Linked DNA regions of Homo sapiens. Each later gene encodes a partner of the first gene's protein in a complex. Each region holds a gene or a part of one and is shown on either strand. Other genes may lie near its edges. A codon is read from its position in the direction of its gene.

Region 1 (3,955 bases):
CGAAGTCATGCATCAAGAACCTCGCCAGGAGGCAATGCCTAATTACATTTGTACTATACACTCTGTTCCTCACAGTTCAGGTAGGAATGTTTATTTGTGTTTTATAAAACTGTTTAATCTTTTTACATTAGGTAAACTCTGTCAAAAATGCTTTGAAAACCACAAATTAACAGATGCTGAGACTACTGTATCATTCACAAAAAGTTCTTCCTCATGCCAAAGATGTTCTGAGAAAACAAGCAGAAGTTTATTGTAACTTCACATTTTACCATTACCACTCTTAAGACGCTAGAAACAAGTAAGATTTAAGGAAAAATAAAAAGAACCTAAACCCGATAGTACTGGATATACCAATACAGAGACTGATTGCAGAAGACTACAGCAGTTCTCTCTAGAGTTCAGCCAGCTGCTTATTAAGACATTTAATTACATTTATTAATATGCCTTGCACAAGAAAATACTACTTAATCTTTCACATCTCCTATCTTTCAACTATGTTCTGTATAAATAATACTTCTATTACGTTACTAACTCCAGCTTAAATAAGCCTCATAAATCATGTCAAATGATATAATTTCAAAATTCCACACATATATTACTCTACAAATATACTCCTTGGTGAAAAGATGTCAACAGTCTCCTTTCTGAAAGCTGTTAGTTTGATGTTAGATCAATCACTGACTAAGCATTTATTGAGCATCTACTATAACTGTACCCAGTCTTTAACTAATAAGAAAAAAATACCTGCTCCAAATGCAAGATGATATTTGTAAGGGAGGATAATTTATCAACTTTTTCTAATAGAATGCTCCTTGAATCAATATCTGCCATATGAAATTATATGACAAGTAAACCTCAAATTTATTACCTATCACCTTATAATGATAAATAAGCAATCTAAAGTATGCTGCATAGTACCTTGAGGAAAGTGACTGCTATACTTAAAATTAAGGCTGATTCCTAAAAGGTATGGAAGAAAAGCCAGAATGTTATTGTTTGTAAACCACTAAAGACTTAATATGAACAGTTTACATAACTATCTGGTTAATTTGGGCAAATGAGCACTTGTGTTTGGTTTCTAACTTTGCTGGAAGGTGTTGGTCTAATAAAGAAAACTGCTTTAAGTAGGAGCACTTTTAGCATACACAAAAATAAAAATCCTTTGTAAATTTCACTTGCAATGTTGTGCAACTGTATATCTTTGCCTTATGCATTTGAAACTGATTATGTATTTTATGCAAAATGGTATATTTTTCCCAAAGCTAAGAATATGGACAATGATGATATGATAGCTAAGCTAGTTTTATCTTTCTAGCTTTTATCAACTCTTGACTTGTTGAATTCCTACAATGTGCAAGGCAGTATGCAATGTGTTGAACATATATGAGGTCTACACATAAAACAAAGGGAAACTGAAGTCTTTGGAAGCAAAATAGTTGTCAATTTGAAAACCAACGGTAATCATTTTCCTCAACAGTATTTCTAAAAGTTGAGAATGATGTCAACTAAAACAAAATACAATCATCCCCACCTCTACCAAAGATGGAACTATAACACAGAAATCATTTCCACAGAAGACACGAGAATGTTCATACTAGAGCCATAGGGACCAAAGCAGCAAGATAAACAATGAGGCAGTCACAGAATATCTACTAGCTACTGTACTGGTAATAGTTTATAAAAAATACGATCTATACTAAAATTTAAGAGCTAATAATATATTTAGCATATTTTTGCCTTTTCTTTTTGCCACTGAATATAAAATTTGTCCTGAATTTACTAAATCTTCTACACCCTGAGGAATAACAACAGACTAATAAAAGTAACGTCAGGGTTAGCTTTCTGGACAATAGAATCATCCAGAAAGCACAAATTATATATAGCTAATATTCTTGGAAGCACAAGGTTTCATCAGCAGACTAAACTACTGCCCTGTATTGTTCTTAGCAAAGAGTTTGGTTTTACAGTGTTAACATGGCCTGGTGAGAGTAGAGAAGTCAAAGTTGGGAGCCTGAGGTTTCCTCTCCCACCTGAGATCCACAACTGATTCATTGGTTTTCTGTCTTCACCATGAACATGGCATATTGCTGCCCTTTAGGAATATATTATTCAACAGTTCTCTGTAAAAGCACTTTGGAATCTTTAGCTATATATTTCTATGAAATTATATTTGCTATCTTGAAATATGGAATTCCTATCCCTCCCTTCTCCATATACAAACAGATAAAATGATACATTTAAAATTTCATCTACGCATTTACTTCTTTTCCTCCAATACCTGAGAGAAAGCAAGTACTGTTTTCCCCCTTTCAACTATATTACATTATGCCTGAATTTGAGAGGGAAGGAAGGTCCTAAAGTAAGGCAAAGGATTCATTTAGGACAACGTTCTGGCCTTTATTTTAGGGCAGAGTGCCACTGTTTCCCTTTGGACGCAGGTTTCAGGCTAATCTATTTGTGCACACACCATCCTCTAAATGGGATGCCTCCAACCCCCAAAACGTTAGTTGCCAGAAAGAAAGAACTAAATCTTGGTAGGGTGCTTAAAATGATAACTAATGGAATAATCAAAGCATCCTGCCTGCTTATATCAGTCTCTCACTGAAGGATAAAATACCCTACGGGGCCATGCCTAGCGATGGGAATAAATAAAACAATGGGCCACAATCAACTGTTTGATAAAACTTCCATCCTGTTTTCTTAAACATTAAATATAATCTTGCTCCCAAAAAAGTAAGAAAGGCACTCGAATTAACACAGTCTCTACAGTTATTTTTTAAAAGACACTATGTGACAATAAGGAATTCTTAGGGTTGATTTTTCTTCATTAACTTCTCAGTGCCTCCACACATCTCTCCATTAAATGGGAGCTTATTACAGAGCATACCTAGGTATGGGGAGGCAGCAACACATAAAGTGCTAGGGTTTGCACAGTTCTATTTGAGAAATTTATTCAAGACAAAAGGTTCAGTTGTTATCAGGTTCAAATTTTCTAGCATACTTTAAATATCTGTAAGTTTTAAAATATAATTTTCCAGTAGCAAAATAATAGTTAGCTTAAAACAGCTTTTTAGAAAAAAAAAATCATGTTACTTCCCTTTACAACTAAATCTTTAGCATCTTCTATAACTCAGGGGAACTAAGGTAGGGATTATTAGATTGTTGTACAGTAGGTGGTATCTGCCATCTTGTGCTATGTAAGAGAAAATTATTAAACTGACAATTTGTTTGCTTCAATACTAAAAATTCCTTTTACACACACATACATGTGTGTGTGGCCCAACAAGAATAAACTGGCATGACCTGAACATACCTAAGTGGCATACGATCTACTATGTATTTGCTTTCCTGCAAACTACTGCATAAAAATCCAAAAACTTTTGTTTCCGTATCTTGTATCACATAAGCCCTTATTTAAAAATTTAAGTACTTTTAGAGATAACCTGTATATATTTAACCCTACTAATAATTAAGCCTTTAAGTGAGAACTGTACCATAGGAATAAGAAATATGACTGAAAGTCTGGGCCCAGAGTTTCTTAAGAGGTAATAAAATGCTAAAATCTACAGAAGACAAAGGGGACATTAATACATATCAAATCCCTAAGCTTAAAAAATGACTCATACAGATTTAAGAAATATCTGAAAGAGTCACAGTTCAAGTTGCGGGGAAAAAAGGAGAAGCATAAAATGATATGTGCACAGGTACAGATCAGTAAGTCACTGAAATCAAAGAATTTCTTCAGATGATTAAAAGCAGTTTCGGCTCTGTATGCAGGATCTGTCCTCTAGTATCACAAATGAACAGAAAGTGGTGTTCTTAATGCAAGTGGGTTCTTTAGCTCTACAAATTTTTAATATATATTATAATACAGTTAATTGACAATTACAGAGCTGCATTTCTTGGCTGGGATTTAACAAGTTTAAACAAGGTAATGAAATGAAGAAAAAAAAAG
Region 2 (3,600 bases), on another chromosome or scaffold:
GAATGAGAATACCTGGACACAGGGCAGGGAACATCACACACAGGGGCCTGTCATGGTGTTGGGGGAGGGGGGAAGGATAGCATTAGGAGAAATACCTAATTTAAATGATGAGTTAATGGGTGCAGCAATCCAACCTGGCACATGTATATCCATGTAACAAACCTACACGTTGTACACATGTACCCTAGAACTTACAGTATAATTTTTTTAAAAAAAGTAACTTCCAATATTTTTACTATTAGCACTCTCCGAAGAAGTGTTTGTGGTGGCGGTGGTGGTGGTGGGGAGGGTGGCCTGTGTGTGTGGCGAGGAGAGGGGGCGGGTACAGGGCTGGACCTTGAGATAGATAAGGCAAACAGGAAGGAAATGTGAACATTTCATTAATATTCATTTAAAAAATATTCATTGAACACTTACTACGTGTAAGCAGGCACTCTACTAATTAACAGCCATTTCAGATTTTCAGAGTGCAAAGGGCCTCAAGAACAAATGATTTATTTTTTTGAGACATGGTCTCGTTCTGTCTCACACCCTGCAGTGCAGTGGCATTATCACCGCTCACTGTAGCCTCCACCCCCTGCCCCACAGCTCAAGTAATTCTCTCACCTCAGCTTCCCCAGTAGCTGAAACCACAGGCTTGGGCAACCACGTCTGGCTCATATTTTTATTATTTGTAGAGACGGGGGTCTTGCAACATTGCCCAGGCTGGTCTGGATCTCCTGGAACCGCCTTTGCAAAATTATAACTGAGGAAATTATGGCAGTGAAAGAAATCAGACCTAACGGATTCCATCTTGCTTCTAACTTTTGTTTTTGAGACTAGTCTCGCTCTGTCGCCCAGGGTGGAGTGCAGTGGCGTGATCTCTGCTCACTGCAAGCTCCGCCTCCCGGGTTTAAGCCATTCTCCTGCCTCAACCTCAGGAGTAGATGGGACTACAGGCGCCCACCCCCACGCCCGGCTAATTTTTTGTATTTGTAGTAGAGACGGGGTTTTAGCCAGGATGGTCTCGATCCCCTGACCTCGTGATCCGCCCGCCTTGGCCTCCCAAAGTGCTGGGATTACAGGCGTGAGCCACCGGCCGCTTCTAACTTTTAAGCTGTCCTTCTTCATTCCTGAGCCTAGGCTGAACCAATTTAGGGAGGAATTCAGTTTATGGTTTGACTCTGAAACAAAATTGATAATATCCCTTTCCCAAAAAGACCGCTTTTTTGCCTGGGGACCAGTCTGCCTTTGCAGAACCAACAGATTAGCTACAAGATTAGAAATTACAGTTTAGAGGTCATGCAGCCTCTGGCTCCAAGTTTCTGAACCTCCCCAAATTGCTCCTGGGGATAACATCACTATTGTAAAACCTAAGATAAGTTCTTGAGATATTTTGCAGACCCTGCTCTCCATGGATCAGTTGAAACCACCCAGATTGGTAATTTGGCTCAACCAGTTCTGCCATCCTACCCAGGAACAGAAAACAGCAAGAAAAACTCACGTCTACCCACTATGAGTCCATCTCCAACCTGACCCATCAGCACTCCCTACTTCCCAAGCCCCTAATCGCCGAATTATCTTTAAAAACTCTGAATACTGCTTGGGGAGACTCCATTGCAAGTCCCCTGTCTTGATAAATGGGCTATCGGTCAGCAGCAGGCAAAGTGAACCACAATATTGGGTGGTTACACTCCTAGGATCAAGCAATCCTGCTGTCCGGCTTCCCAAAGTGCTGGGATTACAGGCGTAAGCCACCGCGTCCAGCTAGAACAAATGATTTCTTAAAAGCAACTCAGATATTTAAATATTATTTAAAACTGTTTCTAGACAAATCGGAGTGACTATGGGACAAGCATATGGTCGCAGGACTTTGGACGCAGGCAGTGAGGACACCTATGAGCGATCAGTGGGGTCCTACGGCAGCCGTGGAACTGCTCTGCCTTGCAGGCGAAAGTGTGGTCAGCTATATCGGAGCGCGATGGGGGCCTGAGAGGCGCATCTGCGCAGGCGCCCGGCTCCTAAGTCTACCCAGGAACTGACCCTGCTCTCTCCTTTCCCTGTTAGACATGGTAAGTGTGAGTTTAGCGCTGCTGTCCGGATGGGTTGGTAGCAGACAGGGTGGAGTAGGGTTAAGCACACTGGTCACCTTAGGATTGGTTTCCTGGTGCTGGAGAATGGTTAGGACACAGGCCTTGGAAGGTTTTTTGAGTGTGAAATATTACTCAGCGTTTTCTGCAGACCTCGCGGGCAATGCCGCTTCTAATTTTATCCAGGCCTTCTTCTGTAGGGAGGGCCTGTTAAGAGTTGAGCAGCCCGATTTCTGAACCCCTCTAAAAAGCTGTGGCTGATTGGTGGCTTTTTTTTTTCTTGGAGAGGGGGTGTCAAAGATTTCTTTAAAATCGTTAGTGATGTGGTCTCGCTTTAAGATTTTTAATGGGATCAGAAGAAAATTCGGTACTTAATCACTTCCGGTAATCTTCATGACCTGTTATAGTGACTGCAGTGTACTCTCAATGAGGAAGATATAGATACGAAAAGAACTAGAGCCGCATCACATGGGGACTTCTGCAAATACAGAGACTCGGATTAAAGGTGGAGAAGATGGAGCTAAAGGAACTGCTTATTTAATACATTTGAACAACTTTTGGGGTACTTAGAAGGTGCTTTGAAACCTGCATTTGATTAAGCAAGAATTCGCTTGCAAGTTAAGGGTTAGATTTTTTTATTTTTTAAAAATATGCTTTCTGCCACATGTAAACCGTAAGTTGTCCTGAAATGATAAGCTTTGATATTCTATGGTGTTTATTTTTTACTTATCTTTTTGAATGAAAAGTGAACAACAAGAAATGCTGGTGGTAATTTTTTGGGTCAATGATGAGTTGGCATGTATTCTGAATCTAAAGTTGATTATTACTACTTTAGCTCTAGAATTACTCTGAGACCTGAAAATTACCTGAATCGTGACTAAGACGAAGCCTGAATGATTTAAGTTCTTTTTTGTTGGATACAATTTGTTGTTGTTGTTGTTGTTTTGGTTTTGTTTTTGAGTCGGTCTCCGGTCGCCCAGGATGGAGTGCAGTGACACAACCTCAGTTCACTGCAGCCTTAATTTCCCTGGCTCAAGCGATCTTCTACCTCAGCCTCCCTAGTTAGTTACAATTTTTAAATGGAACGTTTTCCTATTACAAGATGAAATCAAGTGAAAATTGAGATGTATGTTGAATCTATGCTGTGGGGCAGAAGAACGTTGTAGAGGTAAACATTGATGAGATTACCACTTTATTTTGAAAGGGCACTCCACAGAAGGATGTTATTATCAAGTCAGATGCACCGGACACTTTGTTATTGGAGAAACATGCAGATTATATCGCATCCTATGGCTCAAAGAAAGATGATTATGTATGTATAATTTTTTTATGTTGGAAAGTTTATTTTAAAGAAGTGTGACAGTCATAAGCAGTGAGACAGTATTTATGTCTTAAAATGGCATCCAACTCCATGCAGAGAACTGAGGATGTGCTGTGCCTTTGAACTTCAGTTAAGTGTGCTTTGGACGTCTGAGGCTGTGGGCTTATTAGAATCTCAGTTTTTACCTATACTGAGAGGGCTTGCCAGACA

What was found. Proteins that work in one complex are often made in the same cells at the same time.
Region 2: the proteins of PTAR1 (region 1) and RABGGTB are in contact, whole or in part, in a crystal structure (PDB 6O60), measured with the Homo sapiens proteins. Residues at the interface, in NP_001093136.1 of Homo sapiens: Val61, Lys62, Leu65, Pro66, His69, Leu73, Arg76, Leu97, Asn98, Asp100, Phe101, Thr102, Thr103, Asn106, Lys109, Glu110, Leu113, Ile141, Arg144, Trp145, Pro192, Ser193, Tyr195, Ser199, Ile202, Trp203, Gln206, Val231, Ser232, His234; in NP_004573.2 of Homo sapiens: Lys6 (codon at 3,286), Asp36 (codon at 3,376), Tyr37 (codon at 3,379), Cys40, Met41, Glu43, Tyr44, Ile89, Gly90, His91, Asp92, Asp136, Trp138, Glu140, Phe177, Asp178, Gly182, Cys183, Arg184, Pro185, Gly186, Ser187, Glu188, Ser189, His190, Gln193, Trp217, Glu221, Arg222, Pro225.

The regions. Positions count from the first base shown.
Region 1 is NC_000009.12:69,711,260-69,715,214, forward strand, and holds part of PTAR1 (protein prenyltransferase alpha subunit repeat-containing protein 1), read right to left. Parts: 3' UTR 1-3,955.
Region 2 is NC_000001.11:75,784,224-75,787,823, forward strand, and holds the start of RABGGTB (geranylgeranyl transferase type-2 subunit beta), read left to right. Parts: upstream 1-2,032; 5' UTR 2,033-2,048; coding exon 2,049-2,051; intron 2,052-2,848; exon of another isoform or gene 2,849-2,926; intron 2,927-3,273; coding exon 3,274-3,381; intron 3,382-3,600. UniProt on the Homo sapiens protein: Catalyzes the transfer of a geranylgeranyl moiety from geranylgeranyl diphosphate to both cysteines of Rab proteins with the C-terminal sequence -XXCC, -XCXC and -CCXX, such as RAB1A, RAB3A, RAB5A and RAB7A.